Linked DNA regions of Homo sapiens. The protein of the gene in region 4 purifies or fractionates together with the protein of the main gene of each other region. This does not show direct contact. Each region holds a gene or a part of one and is shown on either strand. Other genes may lie near its edges. The genes, in order: ORC2, CAPRIN1, TOP3B and FXR1.

Region 1 (7,029 bases), on a different chromosome or scaffold from region 4:
TAAGTTGGGGACATTATATATATAAAGAGAGAGATGCAAAATACCTAAGTCAGAGAATCTGAGGATTTAATGAGCTGGTGTACATAAATGTGCCTAATACAGTGCCTCACAAACAGCCCCTTAAAAAACCTGTTGCTTTATTTTATACAAATATTACATAAATGGGTTAAACTTTTTCTCTAATACACCCAGTTTCCCCATAATAGGAAACAGTATTATGACTAGAAAAATGGCCCAAGAGGACATGTTTTACAAGCAATGGTCATAAGTTATAGATGAAGTATTTATTATCTTTATTTTTTATTTTTATTTTTAAAATTTTTCCTTCATATCACAGCCAAGTCCACAATTTTTTGTTGTCGTTGTTGTTTAAAAAAATTTTTTTGACCTGGTGTGGTGGCTCACTCCTGTAATCCCAGCAGTTTGGGAGGTAGAGGTGGGTAGATCGCTTGAGCCCAAAGGTTTGAGACAAGCCTAGGCAACATGGTGAAACCTCATTTCTACAAAAAATACAAAAGTTAGCTGGACGTGGTGGCAGAAGCTAGTAGTCCCAGCTGTATGGGAGGCTGAGGTGGGCAGATCACCTGAGCCCAGGAGGTTGGAGCTGTGGTGAGCCAAGATCATACCACTGCTCTAGGTGACAGAGCCCAGACCCTGTCTCAAAAAAAAAGAAAAAAAAATTAGAGACAGAGTCTCACTCTGTTGCCCAATCCGAGTAGACTATAGGCACATGCCACTACGCCCAGCTAATTTTTTTTTTTTTTGGTAGAGGCAGGCCTTACTGTTGCCAGGCTTGTCTTCAACTCCTGGCCTCAAGGGATCCCCCTGCCTCAGCCTCCCAAAGCACTGAGATTATAGGCATGAGCCACTGCACCCAGCCCACTATTTATTATCTTTATACACAAAGTATGAACCTCATAGAGTTGTGCAGATTAAATGAGAATACATATGGAGTACTCAAAACTGTCTAGCACAATGTAAGTGCTCAAATTTTGTCCTCCTCTCTTCCCACTCCATCCAGATGTTCTCAGTATCTAGGGCTTCCTAGCCAAATCAGTAATGGTCTTTTTGTCCTTTACTATACCATTACAACAGCTTTGGCTTTGTAAGGTCTACATGTATCTATTCATCATGCTTGTTAAAACTTGTGGAACTTGTTTTTGCCCCATTGCTTTCATTTTTCTGCTAGCTGACCCTGACTGAGTTATTTTTCCAATTACAGGTGACTGTATCTGAATTTTGCAGCTGCAGAATGTGTAGTACCTTAAAAGGTAAATGAAAACTGAAAGAAGTCATTTAAGCATGTTGCTTGTCAAAATAAAACTTGGTAACATTGAATTAGTTTTCTTCCTGCAGTTAATGAACTCAGAAGAGATAAATGACTGTGGTGGTGGCCCATGCCTGTAAATCCCAGAGGTTTGGGAGGGTGAGGTGGGAAAATTGCTTAATTCCAGGAGCTCAGAACCAGCCTGGGCAACATAGTGAGGCTCCATCTCTACAAAAAAAGGAAAACCTGCCAAGCATGGTGGCATGTGCCTGTAATCCCAACTACTTCAGAGGTTGAGATGGGAGGATTGCTTGAGCCCAGGTGGTTGAGGCTGCAGCAACACAGTGAGACCCTGTCTCAATAAAAAAAGAAAGAAAAGAGAGACACAGTCAATAGTTTCTCCTGCCAAAAGAAAAGGTGAAAACAAGATTGTAAGAAAGAGAGAAGAGAAAAGAAATCACCAAGAACACTGAATCTTAGTTTACATTTTTTGGGTAAACTGATTAGCTGGCAGCAGTTAAAATCATCATTAGTTATTTTCAGGCCAGTAGCATAGTAAGTTCTGAAAGTTCATTTTGTGAGACTAGCCAGAGTTGATCAAACTTTTGCTTGCCAAACTCTGGAGGTTTGTTCAGTGAGGAACTGAGTGTAAAGTGTTCGAAAGATTTGTGTTTACTGTTTAGTTACCAAGATATCTAGAAAGCCATATTCATATTTGTAAAGTTGTTTGGTAAGCATTCCATAAAAGTAAAGGGAGGTGCTTGAGGGTTTTTTGATCCAGGCTTAGGACACAAGTGAAGTTTAACAGACTCCCCACAATTGACTGTAGCTTTCTAGTGAACAGATAATAAAATCCATTAAAGCATTATTCTTTGTTTGGCTGTCACTTTTCTAAACACTCATGTATTAACCACCCCCTTTCTGTTAATGTGCTTATCTGGATTGGTTAGAGCTTTCATTAAAACTTAAAATTGTTTTTCTGAGAATATTTTATTTTATTTTTCTGAGTATATTTTAGCTACCTTGATTGGATTTAGCTCTTCTCAAATCTCAGAATCTCTTTGCCTCCCCAATTTTTTAGATAAAGAATTGAGTTACCTACAGTTGAATATGTAGTAATACAGTAATGCATAATGTATTTTTTATACTTAAAAAGACTTTAAAAATATTAGATAAAGACATGTATTCATTATGTGAATGTTTAATTTGGTGGTTGATATGAATTCTTCATCACTTTTGAGTAACTTACTGTTTTTGTTTAGGTTGGCAACAATGAGTAAACCAGAATTAAAGGAAGACAAGATGCTGGAGGTTCACTTTGTGGGAGATGATGATGTTCTTAATCACATTCTAGATAGAGAAGGAGGTATTAAGTGATTGTACAATTTGAAGAGATGCTTATTATAATGTTTATGGATTATTTCACTTTTAAAACTTTTAACATTTTCTTTTGAAAATATAGCGCAAAGGATTGATCTGGTTAGTAAAACTAAATAAAAACTGCTTTAATTTTTAGTTTAATTCTTTCAAACTTTAATTGAAAATGTTCAGTAAAGCCTAATATAAAACAAAATGCCCAGGAGTGGTAGTCACTAATAACTACCCATTGTAATTTAAAATATGTGGTTATTTTGAACCCTAAAAATATATACTTTCAAGATTGTGTGTGTTTTTTTTTTTAACTATATAAACTGTGGAAGAGTGGTCAGAGTGGTCAGTTTTAATCAAAGAGAAAGCTTTTTTCCCAGCTTTTAAGTAATGACAATATAAATATTATAATTTCTTATTTAAATGTAATGTTTAGAAAGAATTTATACCTGTCATGCTCTATTTCTTTGGATGTTCTTATAGGAGCTAAATTGAAGAAGGAGCGAGCGCAGCTTTTGGTCAACCCCAAAAAAATAATAAAGAAGCCAGAATATGATTTGGAGGAAGATGACCAGGAGGTCTTAAAAGATCAGAACTATGTGGAAATTATGGGAAGAGATGTTCAAGGTATTTGAGGGGGTGAAATATACACTCGTTTCTGCTAGTAGCAGAAATTGCTTTATAGGATACACAAAAGTAGTCTGGTAGGTTAAACAGTGGTGTTCTATATGATCATGTTTCTCATCTAAAAAGCATTTGCTTCAATTTCTCCATAGTTCTTTTTTTTAACAACCAGTCCTGCACATAGTTTTCAGTAAGAAGGAATCTATAGACCAACCACTCTAAAGTTATTTTATTTTTAAAATTTTTCCAGGATACATGTGTACAATGTGCAGGCTTGTTACATAGGTATACATGTGCCATGGTGGTTTGCTGCACCTTTCAACCCATCATCTAGGTTTTAAGCCCCACATGCATTAGCTGTCTGTCCTTATGCTCTCCCTCCCTCCACCCACCCGCAGGCTGTGGCATATGTTGTTCCCCTCCCTGTGTCCATGTGTTCTCATTTTTCAACTCCCACCTATGAGTGAGAATATGCAGTGTGTGGTTTTCTGTTCCTGTGTTAGTTTGCTGAGGATGATGACTTCTAGCTTCATACATGTCCCTGCAAAGGACATGATCTCATTCCTTTTATGGCTGCATAGTACTCCTAAAGTTATTTTCAAGATTATTTATTTATTTATTTATTTATTTTAGAGACAGGGTCTTGCTCAGTCACCCAGATTGGGATGCCATGGCACAATCATAGCTCATTGTAGCCTCCAACTTCTGGGTTCAGGAGATCCTCCCAACTTAGCCACCTGAGTAGCTAGTACTATTTTTAAGGTATTTATTTATGGCCAGACATGGTGGCTCACGCCTGTGATCCCAGTACATTGGGAGACTGAGGCAGGAGGACTGCTTGAGCCCAGGAGTTTGTAACCATCCTAGGCAACATAGTAAGATCCCGTTTCTACAAAAAAAAAAAGTTTTTAATTAGCTGGAAGCTGGGTGTGTGATGGCTCATGCCTGTAATCTCAGCATATTGGGAGACCAAAGCAGATTGATCGCTTGAGTCCAGGAGTTTGAGACTAGCCTGGCATGGTGGCACACACCTGTGGTCCCAGCTATGAGTGAGGCTGAGGTGGGAGGATCACTTGAGCCTGGGAGGTTGAGGCAGCAGTGAGCCGTGATCATACCACTACACTCCAGCCTGGGCAACAGAGTGAGACCCTGTCTCAAAAAAAAAATAAAACTAGCTGAGCATGGTGGCGTGTGCCTGTAGTCCTAGTTACTTGGGAGGCTAACGCAGAGGATTGCTTGAGCCCAGGAGGTTGAGGCTACAGTGAGCTGTGATTGCATCACTATACTCAGCCTGGGTGACAAAGCGAGACCCTAGGTCAAAACAGAACAAAAAAAAGATATTTATATTTTTAACTTATTTAAAATACCTTTCTAAAGCAAGTTACTTTATTCTTACCTTGATCTTTACAGAACTAGGAGGAGCATTTCAAGAAGTAGTGTTCTAACCCAGGGATGCTGGTATTATGTGTGTGGTTTTAATTTTTACATCTAAGCCAGATTCCTGCAAGATTATTCTTAACATAAAACATTTTTTTAGGTTCGAATTATATTTTAGTTAGGTTTTTCCTGGGTACAAGGAACACAGATCCCCACAACCTAGCTTAAAAAAATAATGACAAAGGAAAGAAATCAATATTGTTGGGTACTAGGAGAGTTGGAACTGGGACAGTGTTAAAAACTGAGGAACTGTGCTTTCATGAGTCTCCAGGTCTCCCTGTGTCATCTCTGTGCATCTGTTCTGATTTCTCTATGCCACATATTTTCTTCATGTACATGTGTTTTATTCTCACATACTTATAAATGTCCATCAAGTTCCCAGTGTTAAGTGATTTGGTTTTTCAGTTCTCCCATTCTAGATTCTCAAGAGTCAATTTAGCTCAATTCATTTTTAAAATCTGGACATAGAAATAGCATATAATTGGAATATCCACAGATGAATCACAGTTGAGTTATCTGTGCCTATTACTTATTATATTAATGAACATAATTACATAGTTCATTAACTATGGGGGTAGAGTCATATACTCCATGTATAGAGTTATACAAAAAATGACCACTGCTCCTCAATAGATTTAGTGGGCTGGGTAGGGTCTCCTATGTGTCCACAGCTAGACAGTTGACATTTTTTGAGCATATTCTAAATAAAACTTGGTGTTCTTGACTCCCTATTATGCCAGGCCTAAGAAGAGATTGATAACAGTATTCCACAAAGGAAACTTTTATCATAAAAATTGTCTCTTAAAAAAGTAGTATGTTTGTTGTAGAAATTCAGTGCTTCCAACCTTTCTCACATAACAGCACTCACAGCAAATGATATTTGGAGGCACAATGGAATAAATAGAAGAGGATGCTGCAGACCAAGGACAAATACCCCAGGGCCCTAACCCTACCCCTGCTACTGGCCTTGATTGGCATCCTCAAAGGCCTGAGAGAATCAGTACTCAGCACATATGAAACCCATACCATTTATTTATTTATTTATTTATTTATTTATTTATTCATTCATTCATTCATTCATTCCTCACACTGGGGAACTTTGCCTTATTTTTTGGCATCATGCCCTATGTTTTTCAACCTTTTTAAAATTATTGACCCCTAATTAGCCTTTTTAGACATTTTCTCCTAATCACTTTTTCCCACCCTAAAAATTTCAGTACTACATATATGCTGTATATCTGTTTATGTACTGTGACGCTTTGGAGGGCCACAGACTATTATATTAATAATGTCAAAGTCTTTTTTCCACACTCCCTCCTGTGCCAAGATCCAGTTTTACCCAATTGGGAGATGTATTGTACCTGTCAAGAATGCCTGCTTTAGAGAACGTGGAACCGTTAACATTTCAGTGTGTATCTTCTGTCTGTTCATACATGCATGGGCACACATAAGCTTGCACCATTACGTTTATAAATAGACTTTTTGCAATTAATAATGTATCATATATACATTACTCTGTCATTAGACATTCTTCTACAATAAGAGTTTTGACATGTATTGCCAAATATCCTCCTAAAGTTTATACAGATTACACTATTTAATCATAGTTACATTTTCCTAAAGACTTAGTTTTGGCCAGGTGCAGTGGCTCATGCCTGTAATCTCAGCACTTTGGGAGGCCAAGGCGGGTGGATCGCCTGAGGACGGGAATTCAAGACCAGCCTGGCCAACATGGCGAAACCGTGTCTCTACTAAAAATACAAAAAATTAGCTGGGCGTGGTGGTGGGTGCCTGTAATCTCAGCTACTCGGGAGGCTGAGGCAGGAAAATCGCTTGAACCCGGGAGATGGAGGTTGCAATGAGCCAAGGTCACACCATTGCACTTCAGCCTGGGCAACAAGAGTGAAAATCCATCTCAAAAAAAAAAAAAGAAAAAGAAAGAAAGAAATCCCAAATCCCATCTCTACAAAAAACATACAAAAATTAGCTGGGCGTGGTGGCATGCACCTGTAGTCCTAGCTGCTCAGAAGGCTGAAGTGGGAGGATCACTGGAGCCCAGGAGGTTGAGGCTGCAGTGAGCCACAATCACACCATTGCACACTAGCATGGGTGACAGAGCAAGAATTTATCTCATACACACACAAAAAAGCTTAGCATCTGAACCATTTTTAAAGTGTATGGGTTCAGTGGCATTAGGTACATTCACACCATTTGTAACCAATCTCCCAAACTTTTCTCATTGTACAAAACTGAAATTTATTCATCTGTAGATGGACACTTGGGTTGCTTCAACCTTTTGGGTATTGCGAATGATGCTGCTATGAACATGGGTG
Region 2 (6,409 bases), on a different chromosome or scaffold from region 4:
ACCACATTGCTCCATCATGGCATCTGCTACACTTTGGTGTCATCAGTCTTTGATTAGACAGTTCAATGAAAGCAGAAACCACAGTAATTTTTGTCACCACTAAATGCCTAGTGCTTGGCATGATGCTGGGCAAAGGATACCCTAATTTGCTGAATAAAGCCTTAGTTTAGTTGCTTAATACAGTGTGTCTCCCTATTAAACACAGTACTTAAAATTGGTATTTCCAAATAAGCATTAATACACAAATGCCTTTGCTAGATGATCAGGAACAAACTGCTGATCTTCCACTGCCTCTACTCAAAACAGCCGTACTGCTTATGTAACTGGATTAAGCTTCAGAACAGCTTGTTAAAAGTAGGATATTAGTAGCAGAAGCTGAGAAGTGTATTAGATGAGGCTATCAGATTGCTTTTATAAACCTTTTCCTCTCTTCACACCAGTAGCACTTCTTCACCTACAGCTTTTGCTGGATGGTTTTTAACAACTTAAGCAGACTGCGTTCAAGGACAGTGAGAAAACCAGACTTTCATATTATTTAATCTAGTGTAATTTTAAACATTCACTAGTCTTTTGCAGTATTTTTGTAGGATTCAAAATGGAAAAAGGTATGAAGATGAGCCTTAACAATTTACTTTCGTTTTCCTGAGGGGTCTTCCTCCCCGTTAACTCCATAAAAAGGACAAGATCAAGGGCAATACTGATTCTGTGAAATCTAACTTATAATCAACTAAAATTTAGAATGCTTAAAAACAACCCAAGTGGAATGCAGATTCAGGAGCTTAAACATAAAATGAAGGGTTTGAATTCGGCACTTATCTGCATTCCACTTCCTCTAGTTATATGACGGAAAATATAATGAACAAATGTCCTAAAACACTTAGGAAGCTGACTGCTCAACTAGTTGTTAACTCATCACCTCAGTTAATGAACCTTCTGAGAATAAGCACACATTCTATGTCTCCTTTAAGTGGAAAAGTCTCCCACGTAAGAGCTGCATATAAAAGGAGACAAAAGAACTGTAGAAGCTAACTGATTAGAAATACTTAAAGGATATTTGTTTTAATATCAAGGTACAATGATTGAAAAAAAACTTTTCCATATTTTTTAGGAATTATTAGGATCTGGAAATAAAACTGCCCTAATCAAGGTAATCAATAACATTCTACCTTTTTAAGTTTTAAAAAAGAAGTTTCATATCCACATGAGATGATTTATATTATGCATATACAAAAGTATTTTGTATGTGAGCTTGCTACACCAAGAGGCTACAGTGACATGTGTGACAATCATTTCCTTGAAACTCTGCTAAAATATGCATTTGACCAAACAAAAGGCCTTCTGCAGCTAGGACAAGCAATCACATATTATACAGAATGCTTAGAACCAAGATTCAGATCTTAATGAGACTTATTGAAAAGTTCTCTGCCCCATAATGAGGCACCCCTTTAAAAATATGGTCTGAGTAGAGACATAAAAGATATACATTTAAACTGTGATGGTAAAATAACCAAAAAAAGAAAAATTATAGTTCAAAAAAAGGAACAATTCTTTGAAAAAACATACATAGAAACAGTCAAACTATGAACACCTTTACACATTCACAACATCTGCACTAATGCATAGAAGTTCAAAACCTAGAAGGCATTTTCTCCCCCATCCCTTCTCTGAAACTGATTCAGAGGTCACTGTGTGAAGAACTTACTTCAGTCCTGATTGTAAATGTCATGAAATTATTTTCTACACAGATAGCAAATTTAGTTTTATATAGGACTGCAAGCATACATCATCTAGGGATTACCCAGTAAACCACAAATATTTTATCCATTCCCCTAAGATACAGGTAACATATGGTTGTGGTACATCCCAGGCAGATGTCATTTAAAGCACGCAAGGGGAGGTGCTAGCAAAAAAATACTCATTTGCCAAAGTAACAGGTTAACCCTTCCAATATGATGTACCACAACCACACATGAGAAAAGTCAAGAACTTATTTTATTTTATTTTAAAATAAACATTGAAGATCCCCCATTTCCCACCACCCTACAAAACTTTTGAATGTGGAATGTTCAACAGCCTATCCATTTTGGTAGGTTACAAAACCAGCAAAAACTCCAGTTGTCTAATGATGAATGTTTGAGAATAGTTTTGTTTTTAAATAGCTGAGCACCTACTGGAAGAATTCCTGGGCTAAATGCTGAAAATAAAATTTAATTTCTGCACAGAAAATACCATTAACTTAGTAGCCTTTGCTTAAAGGTGGGATTAATTCTCCATGAAGTCAGAATGAGACAATAAGCAGCATTAACTTCCTAGGCACACAGAACTAGTGCTCAAACTGCTAGCACAAATTCCAACAGAGTACATAAGGCTAAGTCACTACTCAAGTGTCCATTTCCATCAAATTTAGAGACTCTCCCTATGCATCTAAGGGAAGGAATTATCACTGAATATAAATGCCTCCAGGAGAAACGGAGAATTCAGTTAAGGTTAAATTAGACAAAAGATAATAAGTGCAAGTACTAGAGAAATGTTGCTGGAGATAAACCATAAAATTTGTGACACTAACGTGGCATGGGGTGAATCACATAAGCTGCTAGCTGTTGAACACCAGTGTTTCAAGATACAACTTTTATAAACGTTTTATTTGTTTTGCTTATACCATCAGAACTGAAACTACTGTCCGTGATTTCCCTGAAACAGGGAAATCAATCTAAAACACATACTGGTGCCTTTCAAAAGATAGCAATTGAAAAGGGTGGTAGCAGCAGGCATTTGGTATCTTTTCCTTTTAAAAAAAAGCTTTCAAGCTGAAGGAAAAACATGTGACCGAGAGTGTTATGATTATCCACTAGAGATTTTCATCAGTACCTGTACCAATTTAGGTGACAATACAGCAAAATCCAAGGATTAGTGACAGACAATGTACATGTCATAAGGAATGATAGATAGTACCAATCCTTACAAAAGTCATTGTCTCAAAGAAACTGTTAAGTGTTCAAAAAGGTATCTAAATATTTCACATTAAGTACAGAAGCGGCCATCCGGATTACATCCCATATTTGTTGCATATTTTTCAAAAAGTGCCAATCAAAGCCTAATTTTGCATCTTGGCTTTGTCTTATACAGTATCAGCTGTTAAAAAGCATTTTACATGTGTTTTTAACCACAGTTGTTTGGCCAGATGAACAGTGCTGTGTCAAAGCTGGTAGCCAGCCTTATATGTGTGATTAGGACCCATGCATAATTTGGTATGCATCTGAACGTTCAGTGCTCCAATTTAACTGGAAAAGCTGTGAAATGCAGTTGTTCTGCCAAACCACACTCCACTCCTTTCATCTTCCTTTCTAGGGAAATAATTTAGTTTGTCAGTTATCATTGAATAACTCGAGGGCTGATTTGTAGATTTTATCCAATGTCATAAAAGTCAATCTTGCCTTTTTCAAGCCACTTCAAATAACTATGGAGATTATTATCACCCTGTAAAGTATATTGTTTTACTCCTAAGCAAGGGTGAGGAATCTGAGTATCATGTGCAAGGCTCAAGATGACGCTTAGGACAGAACATGCAGAGTAAAAATAGTTTCCTTCCATATCCAGGTAATAGAAAGCTGACAATTGTAGTCCTGTCTTTATGGGATGAAAACAGTCCCTTTACAATAAGTTTCCTGAAAGGGAGAACAAATAGATAATAACTCTTCTGGTAACATATTATGGTACACTGGCCAGTGTGTTTTTGGCGATTAAACATAATCCTGTGAATCAGATTAATTCACTTGCTGAGTGTTCATTTGCGGCATCCCTCTGTTGGGTCTTGGGGGCCCTCCACGACCTAGAAGACAAAAATGGCATTTGATTTTTCTTTCAAATATTATTTGTTTTGCCTTCAAGCAGATTTTCATCTGAAGTCAAGAAGCATGTGGGCAGCCTGTCACCACATTATTAGGCTTAAGAGGTCAATTCTTCAGTGTTCAAGTTTCCCCTGTCCTGGAAGTTGTCATGCGCAAATTTGCTCATGTTCTCTTAGCTAAAAGAAGAGTAAAGCTAATGGAGTATTCCACCAGTACTCATTCATTCATTCATTCAACAAATATTTATTGAGTGCCTACTATGTGCCAGGCACCATCATCAAGCGTTGGGAATAGATACAGCAGAGAAGACAGACAAGGTACCTGCTCTCATGGAGCTTACATTCTAGTGTACACTCTAGCTTACATTTCAGTAGTAAGTAACATCATACTATCAAAATTAATAAAAGCACCAGAATGAAAACAGACCTTATTACCTAAACTGTTAAAAAGAAACTACATAACATTCAAAACTGTATAATGACTTTTAACAGATAAAATAACTTTTTACATGCTGTTAAAACAGATTTTTAGCTATCAGTTAACTCAACTTTCATCGAATATGCTACAAGGTGGGAAAGAACATAACCCACATTCACATGCAAACATCCTTTGATACTTCTAGTCAAGTCAGTAATTCCCAAGTGATCCATTAATTTTTAGAAAAATGTACCTTTTTCCTGGCCAGTTTCTACTAGTATTCAAATCAAAGTACGTTGTAATTCCTCCTTAACACACATTTTATACATGTTATGGCCAATAGAGGAAACCTGTTTGATGTTTAACCTCCCTCAAATCAGAGAACCATTTAGAATTTCAGACTACATGAAATGCTAGCTCTAATTGTTAAATAGGTTAACTTCCTGCCAAAATGGGAAGTAGTTTTCCAACAGTAAAAGAAAAACAAAAAACTCTCTAAACCTGTAATTTTTTTTAAGTATAGCTCAATAAGTTAGGAATTTGGGAGTTTTGTTTAAAAGTCAGAAATAACTTGATATTTATATCACTAATAGAGGTCCAAAAGGCATTGCAAATTCCATTAGTTCTATCACTTCTAAATGGTTCTCTAAATGTTAACTATGGCTTATCCGGCCATTAAAGGGTGTCTGGCCCTAAAATATAATAGGCATGTTTCAAAAAAATGAAAGAGGAATAATAAATTTATATAAATGTTCAATCTCATTCCAAAAATGTCTTACAAAAATGTTTCAGTAAGTACTTCCTAAAAACATTTAGCAGGTTTTAGGACCTGAAAAATAATTTTCAGTTGGAAAAACACTTTTTCTGAGAAGAGAATATGTTCTAGTTTTCAAGACAGTTTATATAGTAACAGGGAAAATTAAATCATTCAAAAATTAAAATTTGGGTCCAAGATTAAGTTTTAGAAACAGAGCATTTCATTTAATCCCTAGCAACAAGTCTGGAAAGGATAAATGTATTCCTAACATGCAGACTATTAACAGCTCTTCCAAGGCCAGAACAGAAGCTCCACTTAGGAGCTAGGATCACCACCACAAAATATTACCTCGTGGGGCTCCCCGTGGTCCACTCTGCCCAGAGCCTCGCTTGAAATTCTGCTGATATCCATCCTAAAAGACAAGCTAGTTAGTATTGAAAAGGTACTTTTTAAAAAATGCTTACCCATCTATTCTTTCAGTCTAACACTCAATACAGAATTCTTCCTTAATCTTTTAGACACTTCAGTATCAGTTTATCACAGCTACACCTTGTTCTGTAATTGTTGTACTTCTACTATTCTCAAAGAACATTCAGTGAAATATATTTCTCTGCTCTTGGAAATCACTGTCTTTAACAGGCTTTACTAAAGGAGTACTGATGTTGAGTGCTAAAAGCTTTTGTTTCAACAGAGTGTCTTGGACACCACAAAGTTAACGCCAAATTAGTTACTTAGGTTCATTAAGCAACAACACTAAGTCACTTTCATTGGTATATTTAGTTCAGGTTTACACTTTAGAACTACTTTACCTACCCGTTGATAGCCAGAGTAATCCCGGGGAGCACTGAACTGAGACTGTGTATAACCACTGTTTGGAGTGTTAGAGAATGAAGGGCGGTAACCATCATATCCTCCTAAAATTTAGGACAAGAAAAGAAATAATTTTCTTATCTTCACAAGGAATTTTTACTTTTTTATTAATGAAGACGGGAAGAACTAGAAATTATAAGCCAGGCTAGTTAATCAAATTAATCTCCAATTTCCTATCTTGATCCAATCTGTTTATAAATTTCTGTAAGTACTAACTGCCCCTCAGAAGATAAACTTTTAACCCATCTATGCATGTAAACACACATCTGTACAAATATAATAAACAATCCCCGTAAGTTTTGGTAATGTGGAAAATACTTATCCTCCAGGAGATAGTGGTAGACATTAATTTGACATAACCAAATGAACAAAAATTCCATGATCTGTTATTTAAATAACAAATTATACCAAATACACAAATTGTACCAAAATATACATTGTTTAAATTGCACATAGGAGGCTAATGCAGATACATCCTTCCCAAAAACTGTGTGATATATTTTACAAATCAAAAAAT
Region 3 (6,856 bases), on a different chromosome or scaffold from region 4:
CCCCGTCTCTACTAAAAATACTAAAAATTAGCTGGGCATGGTGGCAGGCGCCTGTAGTCCCAGCTACTCGGGAGGCTGAGGCAGGAGAATGGTGTGAACCCGGGAAGCGGAGCTTGCAGTGAGCCGAGATTGCGCCACTGCACTCCAGCCTGGGCGACAGAGTGAGACTCCATCTCCAAAAAAAAAAAAAAAAAAAAAAAGCATGGCATTCTCTACAGTAGAGCACCTGGCAGCATTACAAAGGAAAGCATCTGCTTGGTACATACTAACGTGGATCAGATCACTGAAATAAATCATGCTAAGAAAGCTGGGCATGTAACGGTGTGTAGAGAGCACTGCCATCTGTGATCACACATATGTGTGCACACGTGTGCACTTGATTATGAAGAGGCGATATGTCTGGATGGAACGCAAAACAAACAGTCCAAGCAATCACCTGGAGTGGGTGTTAGGGCCTGGAGGTCAGGGCTGGGGGTGCCTCCTCACCACATTCCCTTTTGCACCTTTTACATTTAGCGCCTGGACACAGGTGACTGAGGGACAAGAACTAAGACAAGGGACTTTACAATAAAACCAGAAAAATAAAGGAGGGTTGTAAAGGGCATTGTTCAGAAAGGATGCCAAAGGAACTCCCTCACTAAAGGGGCTTCTGCTGCTCATCATGCTGTGCAGGGGAAGAGGTCCAAGGTCGGCCTTGGGCTGTCAACCTTGTTCCCCACTTAAGAGATCACAGGACTACAGTGAAATCAGTAATCTTGACCAGAAAGCTGTCCCAAATAAAATGACAATTTGCTTTTTTCCTCAAAATAAGTAAGTGGATGTTCCCCTTAAATGTACAACCATCCCACAGTGAAAGAGCCGAGGCCTTGTGGAATGACGACACTGTCTGCAGATGAGCTCTCTGGCCCATGACAGCTCCAGCTGCATCTCCCAAGGCTCTGCTGCGCACCCACCTTTCCTCCCTGTGCGCCAGCAGGCTTCGGCCTAGGCCACTTTTCCCCCTTAGTCTACTTGCTCTGACCCCTGCCCCTCCCCTCCTGAAGACTGCATCTGGCGTCAGCAGTCTGTCTCTCCCACAATTGTCAGGTTCATTGCCATATTTCTGGCACCCAGCATGCACTAAATGCCTGCTGAGGGAATGAATGAACAACCAAGGTGATTATGACTGGCCTCTGCTCTCCGTTCTGGGGAAGTTTTGATTCTACCAAAATCAGAGGCCCAGAAGTGAGGTTTAAAAGAGATTTAGGGACTCCCCTTCTCTCACCCTGGGAAGCCAGAGGCCAAAAGGGAAAACTCGCAGCAGAGGGGCATTGTTCTGTGAGGGTCTGAGTTTCCCATCTCTTCCAAAGTAGGAAATTTTGTCCTAAAATGTTTCCTCAGATTTTCTCATGTCTATGCCACAGAGTAGTCAGCAATTATGTATGACATAATGAGGACACACCAGGGACCAGGCAGTCCTGCCAGCATCCTAGGCAGGGATGCTAATAGGTGCTGCCATTTTATTGGCCTAGACTGGGACTGTGGGGTCAGAGAGACCAGAGCTCCAGTGGCTGGACTTGGTTGTTCTAGAACCCGTGCCCCAAGCCTGATCCTGTCCTGCCTCTGTGAGCACTCTGATGGAACAGCAGCCCAGCTTTGCTTCCTTGTAGCACTCATCACTACACTTGGTACAGCTTCCATCTACTTATTCAGCTCTTGTCTTACAGCTCCTAGAAAGTAAGTAAGCAGCAGGAGAACACGGGTTTTGCTTTGTGCATTCTCACGGTAAATAGACAGTGAGCAAATACTTTGCGAGGCTGAGGCAGGTGGATCACCCGAGGTCAGCAGTTCAAGACCAGCCTGGCCAACATGGTGAAGCCTGGTCTCTACTAAAAATACAAAAATTAGCTGGGCGTGGTGGCGCATGCCTGTAATCCCAGCTACTCAGGAGGCTGAGGCAGGAGAATCACTTGAACCCGGGGGCGGAGGTTGCAGTGAGCTGAGATCGCGCCACTGCACTCCAGCCTGGGTGACAGAGTGAGACTCTGCCTGCAACAAAACAAACAAAAAAAGAAACAAGCAGATGTGGCCTGGGAGTAGGCCTAGCAGTGGTCTGAATAGCATTAAAATTCCTAGGATTTACCACCTCAGTAACTTTACCAAATGCTTCTAGAATCAGGAAAAGAGGGAAACAACCATTTCTTAAGCTCCTCCTTTGTAGTAGGCACACCATAGCTATCAACACTATTCAATCTCGCCAGCAACCCCATAAGGCAGGTGTTGTAATTTTTTAAAACTGTGAGTAAATGGAGGTTCAGAACAAGTCACACTAGTGTCAGGTGACCTTGGCAAAAGAATCCCAGGACTGGCTGGCCATCAAGCCCAAGTTAGGCTGGCCTCTCAGGTCCTGTTTCAAAAGGTGAGAAGATAAAAAGGCAAGACTAGGAACATCTTACCTTTCACTTCTGCGAGAAATTATTGCCCCTGGATTCCAGCTAATTTGTTCACAAAAGTACCCTACTTCATTTACAGATAACAGGTCAGAGAACCTGGGTGCCCTCAAAACCCAGCCAGGGCCTAGGGGGCGGCGAGTGGAAGCTGCCTGGGTGTGTACCGCACCGATCTGGGCCCCGGTGGCTGCACAGCTTCCCTGAGCCTCAGTTTCCCTACCTGTGAGACTGGTACAGCAGATCTCACCCTAAAGAGCTGTGGGAGGGTTCGAAGAAGAAAAGTATTAACCACAGCGCCTGCTCCCTGCAGGCACATGGCGGGCCCATCTCCACCTCCCTGAACCCCCACAGCAAGCCCCGCGGGAGAGTATCACCCCCGCCAGGGAAGAGGCAACAAGAATGCAGAGCCCGGCCCGGGCGCTCTCCCGAGCTCGCGGGTCCTCCGCCGGCCAACGTTCAGGAAACAAGCCAGAAAAATGCGTGCGCTTCCCGCCTTTCTGAGCCGCCGGGCGAGGGTCCCGCAGCCCGCCGCTCACCCACAGCCGCACCGCGGATCCAGCTCCGGTCCTTGTTCCCGGGGCGGCTACCGACAACCCCTATTTCCGGGTCCAGCCGCTTCTGGCGTCCCCGCGTCCGGTGTGCCAGCGTCTGCCCTCCGGCTCCGGCGGGTCGGCGTTCTTAGGTTCCGTGGCTCGCGGATTCCGGGAGCACCCCAGGGAGTGGCACTTGCACGCCGCGGACCGCAGGGATCCCCAAGCCCTGCACCCAGATTCTTCCCCGCCACGGAGAGACAATCATGACAATTATCATTACAATGATTATGAAAACTGGCATGAAAACATTTATGCTGTTAATAATTAAAATAATAAAAATGTACCGATGTGTGTATAGCAGGCTTCTTTTCGATGCTGTAAAAAAATCTGTGGAATGAATGAATGATCTGTGTAAAATATATTTGGAAGATGAATTCTAAAATTAAGTTATTTATTTATTTATTTATTTATTTATTTTGAGACAGAGTTTTACTCTTGTCGCCCAGGCTGGAGTGCAGTGGTGTGATCTCGGCTCACTGAAACCTCCGCCTCCCAGGTTCAAGCAATTCGCCTGCCTCAGCCTCCTAAATAGCTGGGATTACAGGCGTGCGCCACCACGCCCAGCTAATTTATATGTGTATGTATATATATGTGTGTGTATACATATATATATATATTTTTTTTTTTTTTTTTGAGGCGGAGTCTCACTCTGTTGCCCAGGCTGAAGTGCAGTGGCGCAATCTCGGCTCACTGCAACCTCCGCCTCCCGGGTTCAAGCGATGATCTCGCCTCAGCCTCCCAAGTAGCTGGGACTATAGGCGCTTGCCACCACGCGGGCTAATTTTTTGTATTTTTTTAGTAGAGACGGGGCTTCACCGTGTTAGCCAGGATGGTCTCGATCTCCTGACCTCGTGATCCGCCCGCCTTGGCCTCCCAAAGATTTCTATATTTTTAGTAGAGACGGGGGTTTCACCGTGTTAACCAGGCTAGTCTTGAACTCCTGACCTTAGGTGGTCCGCCTCCCTCGGCCTCCCAAAATGCTGGGATTACAGGTGTGACTCTTCACGCTCGGCCAACTAATTTATTTGTTAGAGCATTAGGATTATGGAAGGTTTAAAATACGTTTTATGATCTTATTTTAAATAACATACACACATTGCCCTTGTTCCTTGTAGATTTTCCCAACCTGCTGTTTTTTTTTTTTTTTTTTTAAAGACAGGGTTTCACTCTGTCACCCAGGCTGGAGCGCAGTAGCGAGATCACAGCTCACTGCAGCCTCGATCTCCTGGCGTCAGGCGATGCTCTCACCTCAGCCTCCCCAGTAGCTGGGACCACAGGTGCCAGCCACCAAGCCCAGCCAATTAATTTTTTTTTTTTTGGTAGAGATGGGGTCTAGGGGGAGGGTCTCACTATGTTGCCCAGATTGGTCTCAAACTCCTGGCCTCAAGTGATCCTCCTGCCTCGGCCTCCCAAAGTGCTGGGATTACAGGGGTGAGCCACTGTCCCGGGCCCCAACCTGCCTTTATTGGAATGATCTGTGTAAAGTATATCTGGAAGATGAATTCTAAAATTAAGTTATTTATTTATCTAATTTATTTTGATAAATAATAAGTAGTCTGGATAGAGGCTCTGGAAAAAGAAAAGTTCTATAGGCAAATTAAGGTTTGGAAATGTCACAAATTATGAGTCACGGTGAGACTTCACTTTCAAAGCAGAACTCCTGATTCCAAACCCACACCTTGGTAGGTTCTTCGTCTCCAAAATGGCAACTCCATCTTCCTGGTTGCTCAGGGACAGAGCCTGGGAGCATCCTGGACCACCCACAAATCCTGCCATTACTGTCTTTACAATACAGATGCTCCTCAACTTCAGATGGAACTACATCCACATAAACCCATCTTAAGTTGAAAATATTGTGACTCGAAAGTACGTTTTTGACTTATGGTATTTTCAACTTACTATGGGCTTACCCAGATGTAGCCCCATCATGAGTCAAGAAGCGTGCAGAATGCATACTGGTTTTGTAGTTGAAAAATCCTGTAGGTGGAAATTGTCCTAAATCGAAGACTGTATATCGGAGATCCCCTCAAGTCTCCCTGCCTCCCTGCCACCACCCTGATCCGAGCTCCTCCTCTCCCTCCAGGTCTCCACCTTGCCGCCCTGCAGTGTGTTCTCCACATACCAGCCAGGGCTAAGATTGGCTCTGTTGGGTGCTACCAGTTGGCTGAAAGAGAAACCCAGAGGCCCTCAGCTCATTCCATCAATCCAGTTCCAGAGTTCATTGTATGGAGCCCTAGGAAGGACCTGAGGCCTGGGCCAGCAGGAGGCGCTGAGTGGTCAGCTCTGAAGGCCAGGGCGTCGGGAAGTGTTCTTGGTCAGAGCAGAGAAACTGCAGTTGCCTTGTGCTTTCTTCCCGGAGAGCCCTGCAGCTGACCCTCTGCCAGAGCTTTGGGTCAGGCTTTCTGACTGACCCTTAGGTTGACAAATGACCCAGATTCAGAGGAACCCTTCAACTTGGAGGTGTCTCCCTATTGGGACTCCCCCCAACCCCAGCTCCACTCTGACCAGGGAGATGGTGGCCTAGGATCGACTCAGCGAGAGGGGCCGTTCTTCTTTCCCCATGGCTGGGGAGAAACTGACTCCCCTAAAGAGTAGCAGCAGACTTGCCTGCAGAGGCCTCCTCTAAGGAGTGTGCAGAGGCCATGAGAGAAACTCAGGTGCCCAGACACCGCCATGGGACTTCAGGAAGCAGAGCCCTGGGGTGTTTCCACCATGGTCTTGACTTTTCTCCTCTTCCTTACCCTCCTCACTTACTGGGCAGGTGCCTGGTTATGGTGGATGGGATAACTGAGGGCTCCTGGACCTCTCTTCTCTCTGGTTCGGCATAGGCTGGTCCATGATTTTGATAATACTATTAATAGTTAACATCATGCAGTGCTTACTTACTCTGTTCTAGGCACTGTTCTGTTACTGACACAATCCTCATTACAACACTAGGAATTAGATATTATTATTATCCTTATTTTACACATAAAGAAGCAGGACACATAGGCCAGGCGCGGTGGCTCACGCCTGTGATCCCAGCACTTTGGGAGGCTGAGGCGGGCGGATCACCTGAGGTCGGGAGTTAGAGACCAGCCTGACCAACATGGAGAAACCCCGTCTCTACTAAAACTACAAAAAATTAGGTGGGCATGGTGGCGCACATCTGTAGTTCCAGCTACTCGGGAGGCTGAGGCAGGAGAATCGCTTGAACCCAGGAGGCGGAGGTTGCAGTGAGCCAAGATCATGCCATTGCATTCCAGCCTGGGCAACAAAAGCAAAACTCCATCTCAAAAAAAAAAAAAAAAAAAAAAAAGAACCAGCAGGACACAATGATGGAAGTGGCAGAGCAACCTAGTTCCAGAAGCCACTTTTTTTTTTTTTGACGGGGTCTCACTCTGTTGCCCAAAGTTCTGGGATTTATGGGCATGAGCTACCGTGCACAGCCTTAAAGATTACTTTTTTTTTTTTGAGAGGAGTCTTGCTCTGTCGCCAGGCTGGAGTGCAGTGACACGATCTTGGCTCACTGCAACCTCCACCCCCTGGGTTCAAGCGATCCTCCTGCCTCAGCCTCCCGAGTAGCTGGGACTACAGGCACACACCACCAAGCCCAGCTAATTTTTTAAATTTTTAAATATTTTTTTATTTTTAGTAGAGATGGGTTTCACCATGTTGGCCAGGATGGTCTTGATTTCTTGACCTTGTGATCCACCTGCCTTGGCCTCCCAAAGTGCTGGGATTACAGGCGTGAGCCACCGCGCCTGGCCAAGATTACTTTTTGAAGTTTGAATAAAAGGGCAATGAAACCTGCGCTGAAGAACAGGAAATTGACTGGCTGTGTGCTGAGGCCAT
Region 4 (7,029 bases):
TACAGAAGTGGATATTAAGTTTAAAATGGAGTTCAGCATTTCATCGTTCAGTGAGAAAAGCCTCCAGGCAGTTGAGATGGTTTATTTAGAAAGCCAGATTCATGAATGATTATGCTTTGGTGAAAATAGAATAAGGGGGTTAGGTAGTTTTAAGACATAACATTTTCAGCAAATGAGGCTTGATTTACCCACATTAACAAGAGATATTCGAACTGCCTCTCTGAGATAGTTACTCGAATGGGCACCTTCTTTTGGTTGTTAGGATATTCTTTTTTTTTTTGAGATGCAGTTTCGCTCTTGTTGCCTAGGCTGGAGGGCAATGGCGCGATCTCAGCTCACCGCAGCCTCCGCCTCCCAGGTTCAAGCAATTCTCCTACCTCAGCCTCCCGAGTAGCTGGGATTACAGGCATGCACCACCACGCCTGGCTAATTTTGTATTTTTAGTAGAGACAGGGTTTCTCCATGTTGAGGCTGGTCTCGAACTCCTGACCTCAGGTGATCCACCCACCTCGGCCTCCCAAAGTGCTGGGATTACAGGCGTGAGCCACCGCGCCCGGCCTAGAATATTCTTTTTGTAACCCTCAGTATACTTGGGAAAACAGTCATCACTGATCGTTTACCAAATAATTTTGTAGCAGAAAGAATGAAAGGGTAGTAAGGTCGTTATTGGACCTTTTTTTTTTTTGAGACAGGGTCTCGCTCTGTCACCCAGTTTAGAGTATAGTGGCATGATCATGGCTCACTGCAGCCTTGACCTCCCAGTCTCAAGTGATCCTCCTTCCTCAGCCTCCCAAGTAGCTGGGACTAGAGGCATGCACCAACCACACCTGGCTAATTAAAAAAAAATTTTTTTTATAGAGACGAAATCTTCCTGTGTTGTCCAGGTTGGTCTCAAACTCCTGGGCTCAAGCAGTCCTCCTGCCTCAGCCTCCAAAAGTGCTGGGATTACAGGCATGAGCCACTGTGCCCCCCATTATTAGACTTTTTTAAAGGCCATTATTGACTCCATGCTGGAGTATAGTGAAGCAAACACAACTCACTGCAGCCTTGACTTCCTGGGCTCAAGAGATCCTTCCACCCTACCCCAGGCCCCCAAGTAGCTGAGATTACAGGCACATGCCACCATGCCTGGCTAACTTTTGTATTTTGCATAGTGATGGTGTTTCACCATGTTGTCCAGGCTGGTCTCGAACTCTGGAGCCAAAGTGATCTGCCCACCTCAGCCTCCCAGAGTACTCGGATTACGGGCGTGAGCCCCACCACGCATGGCCTTATTAGACATTTTAGTGAGGGTTTAAACATAGCAAATCTAACTTTTTCATATTTTCCAGGTTTTGATGATATATGTATCTACAATGAATGCAGTTCTCTAAATGTAACTAACTGCTCACTGTTATACATGAACCTAGAACATACCAATCTTATAAATATTGATAGCAGATTTAAAATATATCTCTAATAAATTCTAGCTTATTCTGGTTATTCTTACAGTTGGATCATCAGAATGCAGTCCTTGAATACTTTGGAACTTTTAATGACATCTCATTCTATTGAAGAAGGGATAGCCATCTCTGTGCTGTAATTTTAGCACATTTAGTCAGTTGGATTGACTAATCTATTGAATATTTTTGCATTTCATTATCTTTCTTTTTCGAGTTACCTTTGTATACACATCTGCTTTTGACATTTCCACTTACGAAGTACATTTTGGCACACAAACATTTCTTAAAATTTTATCTTCAATTTTTATTTTACCTTTTTTTTCCCCCTGGACAGGGTCTCGTTCTGTCACCCAGGGTTGAGTGTAGTGGTACAATCTTGGCTCACTGCAGTCTCAACTTCCCAGGCTCCAGCAATCCTTCCACCCTAGCCTTCCATGTAGGTGGCACCACAGGTGCACGCTACGACACCTGGCTAATTTCTTTTGTATTTTTGATAGAGATGGGGTTTCATCATGTTGTCCAGGGTGGTCTTGAACTCCTGAGCTCTCAAGCAGTCGACCTGCTTTGGCTCCCCAAAGTTTTGGGATTATAGGTGTAAGCCACCGTGCCTGACCACAAACATCTTAAAAGATGGAAGAATACTGTCATATACCCTTTTAGCAAACCAGGATGATCTGGGTTCTTGTTGGAGGATTTTGCATGATGGAGTCTCAGTTGAGTCATTAACTGGATGAGAATACACATCATCTTTCCCTCTTCTCCTTAGAAATACATTGTTTGAGAACAATGTTTGAGAAATACATCGTTTGAGAAATACATCGTTTGAGAAATACATTGAGAACATTCATCTAAGATGTCACCATCTCAGACTTCATAGTCTGAGGTTTTGCTTTGTAAGATAATTTCACATTTATCAGTACTCTTTGCATCTGTTGTCTGATATCTCTAATAATTAGAAAGGCCTTCCTCTGTAAATTTTTCTTCTCTTCGCAATTATGAGTGAAAAAAATTCATAATTATCAACTGGTCAACGGTAGCTAAAAGCAGACTACAAGGATGGTGTCTTTGGTCTTTTTGAACTGTTTTGAAAGAGATGTGATACCTCAGGCTATGCAGTAAGGAAACTGTATGAACATTAACAGTTTATTTCACTGTTGTATCCTCTAGGTGATGCCATCATTCCTCTGTTCCATTTTAGTCTTTATTTAAAGCATAGCTGAGAATAACTGATGAATGTTGATGAAATTGTAAAGTGTTTCAAGATATAGGAAAAATAAGATCACTAGATTCTACCTTACATTTATAAAAGGGCCCAGTGGATACATATAATAATTACAGAATAAGGGTGAGTTCTGTTCTAGTCTTAGAGAAGTAAACTTTCTTGTTTTTTGGAATATGTCGTAAGGAAGAATATAAGTCATGAGATATTGATCCCTTTGAATAGTTAGATCTGTTTATAAAAGAAATGGAAAAGCTAAAATTGAGTTTAACGGACCCTGATTGGTATATTGGACTTCCTGCTTTTTCTCATAGCTTTTTTCTAATCATGGTATACGATAAAGTTCATTAGTAGGTTTTGGTTTATTCATTTCCAGTTCCAGTATTCCTACCACTTCCAAGATTACTCTCAAATCATCCTGATAGAAGCTTCAGGCTTTCTAAAAGTCTTTGTTTTTAGTTGTTTGTGTTTATCTCCCAGATGGCTGTTAACAGCCACTGATAGGTTTCCCTGATGATCTCTGCAAGGACAGTCAATCTTGGTTTTTATTGGTTTTTAGTTTCTTCTCAGCCCCCCTTTTCTACCTTTCTCTATACTGAAAATATAATACGTTAAAGAAGCTCTGCTGTGTCATAAGAAATAACTCTAATCCCAAGTGAAAGCTTCTGTGACCTATTACGTTAATAAAACTGATATTTATAGATATAAAGAATATGACTTGTTTTTTTGTGGATAGTTTTTATTTTGTTTTTTTTGAGATGGAGTTTTGCTCTAGGTGCCTAGGCTGGAGTGCAATGGTGTGATCTCTGCTCACTGCATCCTCCACCCTCTGGACATGATTCTCCTGCCTCAGCCCTCCGAGTAGATGAGATTACAGGCACCTGCCACCATGCCCGGCTAATTTTTATATTTTAGTAGAGACAGGGTTTACCGTGTTGGTCAGCCTTGTCTCGAACTCCTGACCTCAGGTTATCCACCCACCTTGGCCTCCCAAAGTGCTGGGATTACAGGTGTGAGCCACTGCGTCCGGCCTGGATAGGAATTTTGTAAGATACTTAATGTATTCTGCTAGATGGACTGAATGTGTGTAATTTTTTTGTTCAGTTAAACAATTTTAGTACATTTGATTTAGGTTCTTTAGCACGGGATCTAAATGTCATATCCTCGATGGAATTTAAAAATTACGTTAATCACTTTCTGAGAACAATTTTTAATATTAACAATGTTGACAGAAACAGGAAGACCTGTGTTTTACATTATTTAAAACTCCTTTGTAAGAGCATTTCTTTAAAATAATACTTATGTTTAGTAAACCTCATGAATATGGAATTAATTTCTAAGAAGCTAAATTGCCCAAAAAAGTAGTTTTATTTTTAAGTAGTAAATTTAAGTTACATATCACTTTCTTTAAATTGCATTTAATATGCCAATTTAAATAAAATAGCATTTTTCATTCTTAAGTTTATTGGGATTGGGTATTAATAAAAAGTCATTTACAGCATTGAAATCTTTTGGGATGAATGGATATAGGCATTTTTTTTTCTTCTCAGGTATATTCAAGAGCAAATGACCAAGAGCCATGTGGGTGGTGGTTGGCTAAAGTTCGGATGATGAAAGGAGAAGTAAGTACTCTTCACACTTGCTTTGTGACTAGTTTCTAAGGAAGTACCTCAGTGCTTGGTTTTTGTAAATCTTATTTCAACTGTTAGTTTTATTTCTAAAAGCCTACCTGAGAAATAGTTGATCAGACATTTCCATTAGCATTAATTTCTGTTTGTGTTCTGTATTGGCAAACACCAAAGCTGCTCTCCAGAGGTACACCTCAAGCATGTAAGGACCGCCAAGGTTCATGCTTGTAAGAACCTATAATCTAGTTTAGGCAAATCAGATTGATGTAGCTAAGCTGTGCTTAGTATTTTATGCCACATGGGGGAGGGTCCGTTGGTTAAGCTGAGCAAGGTAATTAGAACTTCATTTAAACTTCATTATTTTTGTTCAGATGGGATTTTTAAAGTATTTTGATGTCTTTTAGTTTTATGTCATTGAATATGCTGCTTGTGACGCTACTTACAATGAAATAGTCACATTTGAACGACTTCGGCCTGTCAATCAAAATAAAACTGTCAAAAAAAATACCTTCTTTAAATGCACAGTGGATGTTCCTGAGGATTTGAGAGAGGCGTGAGTAATTTTATATACTATTGAATTGTTCTGTGAATTAAGAAGATTTTTCAGTCCTACAAAACATTTTCCCTAATGCCCAATCAAACCTTCTGATGGAAAATCATCTTAATGAACAAAGGTTTTAGTGGGGCTTGTCAAAATGAAACACTGACTTTGTATTGTGACTCTCCTCTGACTTTAATCTGTTATTGAGTTCTTACACATAAATTGATTTCTCTCTAGGTGTGCTAATGAAAATGCACATAAAGATTTTAAGAAAGCAGTAGGAGCATGCAGAATTTTTTACCATCCAGAAACAACACAGCTAATGATACTGGTAAGATAGTACCATATTATAAGGTAGCTTATTAATGGATATTGCACAGATTTTATAATTACATATTTCAGAAGAGAAAAGCTAAGATCAACTTAGTGTATAGTGAATTTATTAATATAGTGTGGGAGAAAAATTTGTTTGCAGCTATAAAATGTTAATTACATTCTTAACATCATAAAATTCTTAATGTGTGAGATTCCGGATTTTTCCCCAATCAAACATATTCTGAATAGCAGATCTAAATAATACAGGAATTCAGAAAGGAAAGTGTGATTACTCAGAGTAGTGAGTGTTAGGTGAAAGAAGTGTAGTAGATGAGAAGCAAGGAAGGCTTTGCATAGAAGATGGGATGGTGTTTGTGCTATTTGGAAGAATGATTAAAGTTTTGAGTAATTAGCTTGTTTGTTTATAGTCTGCCAGTGAAGCAACTGTGAAGAGAGTAAACATCTTAAGTGACATGCATTTGCGAAGTATTCGTACGAAGTTGATGCTTATGTCCAGAAATGAAGAGGCCACTAAGCATTTAGAAGTAAGTGGGTTTACTTACAAAAGAGTTTTCTGTGTCCCATTTAGTTTTTGTTTGTTTTTTGGAGACAGATTCTGGCTCTGTTGCCCAGGCTAGAGTGCAGTGGCACAATCTTGGCTTACTGCAACCTCCACCTCCCGGATTCAAGCGGTTCTCCTGCCTCAGCCTCCGTGTAGCTGGGATTGCAGGTGTGCCCCACCAAGCCCAGCTAATTTTTGTATTTTAGTAGAGGTGGGGTTTTGCCATGTTGGCCAGGCTGGTCTCGAGCTCCTGGGCTCAAGTGATTGCCCGCCTCAGCCTCTCAAAGTGCTGGGATTACAGGCATGAGCCACCGAACCTGGCCCCCATTTAGTTTTATATTTTTCAAGTTCCTTGCTTCAAACGAAGGCAGCCCAGGACCTCTGTTTCGTGACTGTTTGGAGTTGTGTCCGTAGAACAATTGCTTTTCCATTTTACCTTTTATCAAACATAGCCTTTCCTTTGCGAAATGCCTGTTGACTTGTTGGTAGGACTTAGATGACAGGTGCCAAAGAGCTAAGAAACTAGGGATACTCAGTAGACTGTATTGCTAGTTCTTTACTTTGTATTTAACCTTTTTATTTTTTTAACTGCCTTGTCATCTGTCAGTCATGATATCTTTCATCAGTAACTAGTTCACTGTAACAACTCTTGTGTGAGAGGAGAGGAGGACTAGGAGTGAGGCATCATGTGGCATGTAGTATTAAAATATTAAGCTTATCATTATATCTCTGTCTTATCCTAAGGTACTCTGTTTTGTCCTGTTCTTCCCTGCTACACTAGTAGGATACTTGTTCTTCCCACTCACTCACACTTTCTAGATCTAGATGAACACATGTGCATGCACACACTGTGATGTCTCAGAGAAATTAAGATATGTTTATTATCCTTAGGACAAATTTGGAAATGTTCTCATTAATTTAAAAATTCTGAACAAGGGATATGTGAACAAATCTGCCTGTATCTGGAAAAGTGTTTTAGACTAATAAAATAGATGAATAAAACAGTTTCTTTTCCCCATTCATTTTATGACATTAGATGAGTTTCCTTTGTTTCTTAAGAAACTTGAGTTTTGGCCTTTTTAAAAAAATTTATGTGGGTTTTCGGTGGTTTTTTCTTCTTGGGTTTTTCTTTATACTGTGGTAAAGTACATATGAAACTTAGCATCTTAACCATTTTTAAGTGTACACTTAGTATTAAGTATGTTTACATTATTGATCAATCTTCAGTACATCTCATCTTGTAAAACTGCAAATCTATACCCTTTAGACAGCTGCTCATTTTCCCCTTTCCACAGCCCCTGACAACCATCATTCTATTTTCT

Evidence for each region.
Region 1: the proteins of FXR1 (region 4) and ORC2 purify together in Homo sapiens (affinity purification with mass spectrometry; 4 studies listed by BioGRID and IntAct, with this or other methods). This does not show direct contact.
Region 2: the proteins of FXR1 (region 4) and CAPRIN1 purify together in Homo sapiens (affinity purification with mass spectrometry, with the first as the bait; 2 studies listed by BioGRID). This does not show direct contact.
Region 3: the proteins of FXR1 (region 4) and TOP3B purify together in Homo sapiens (affinity purification with mass spectrometry, with the first as the bait; 2 studies listed by BioGRID). This does not show direct contact.

The regions. Positions count from the first base shown.
Region 1 is NC_000002.12:200,953,634-200,960,662, reverse strand, and holds part of ORC2 (origin recognition complex subunit 2), read left to right. Parts: intron 1-1,222; 5' UTR 1,223-1,271; intron 1,272-2,529; 5' UTR 2,530-2,539; coding exon 2,540-2,633; intron 2,634-3,118; coding exon 3,119-3,262; intron 3,263-7,029. UniProt on the Homo sapiens protein: Component of the origin recognition complex (ORC) that binds origins of replication. DNA-binding is ATP-dependent. The specific DNA sequences that define origins of replication have not been identified yet.
Region 2 is NC_000011.10:34,096,723-34,103,131, reverse strand, and holds the end of CAPRIN1 (caprin-1), read right to left. Parts: intron 5,937-6,409; coding exon 5,836-5,936; intron 5,435-5,835; coding exon 5,371-5,434; coding exon of another isoform or gene 5,351-5,370; exon of another isoform or gene 4,072-5,350; intron 3,830-4,071; coding exon 3,765-3,829; 3' UTR 522-3,764; downstream 1-521. UniProt on the Homo sapiens protein: mRNA-binding protein that acts as a regulator of mRNAs transport, translation and/or stability, and which is involved in neurogenesis, synaptic plasticity in neurons and cell proliferation and migration in multiple cell types.
Region 3 is NC_000022.11:21,979,765-21,986,620, forward strand, and holds the start of TOP3B (DNA topoisomerase 3-beta-1), read right to left. Parts: upstream 3,024-6,856; 5' UTR 2,966-3,023; exon of another isoform or gene 2,650-2,965; intron 1-2,649. UniProt on the Homo sapiens protein: Releases the supercoiling and torsional tension of DNA introduced during the DNA replication and transcription by transiently cleaving and rejoining one strand of the DNA duplex.
Region 4 is NC_000003.12:180,943,654-180,950,682, forward strand, and holds part of FXR1 (RNA-binding protein FXR1), read left to right. Parts: intron 1-4,211; coding exon 4,212-4,283; intron 4,284-4,693; coding exon 4,694-4,842; intron 4,843-5,067; coding exon 5,068-5,161; intron 5,162-5,573; coding exon 5,574-5,690; intron 5,691-7,029. UniProt on the Homo sapiens protein: mRNA-binding protein that acts as a regulator of mRNAs translation and/or stability, and which is required for various processes, such as neurogenesis, muscle development and spermatogenesis.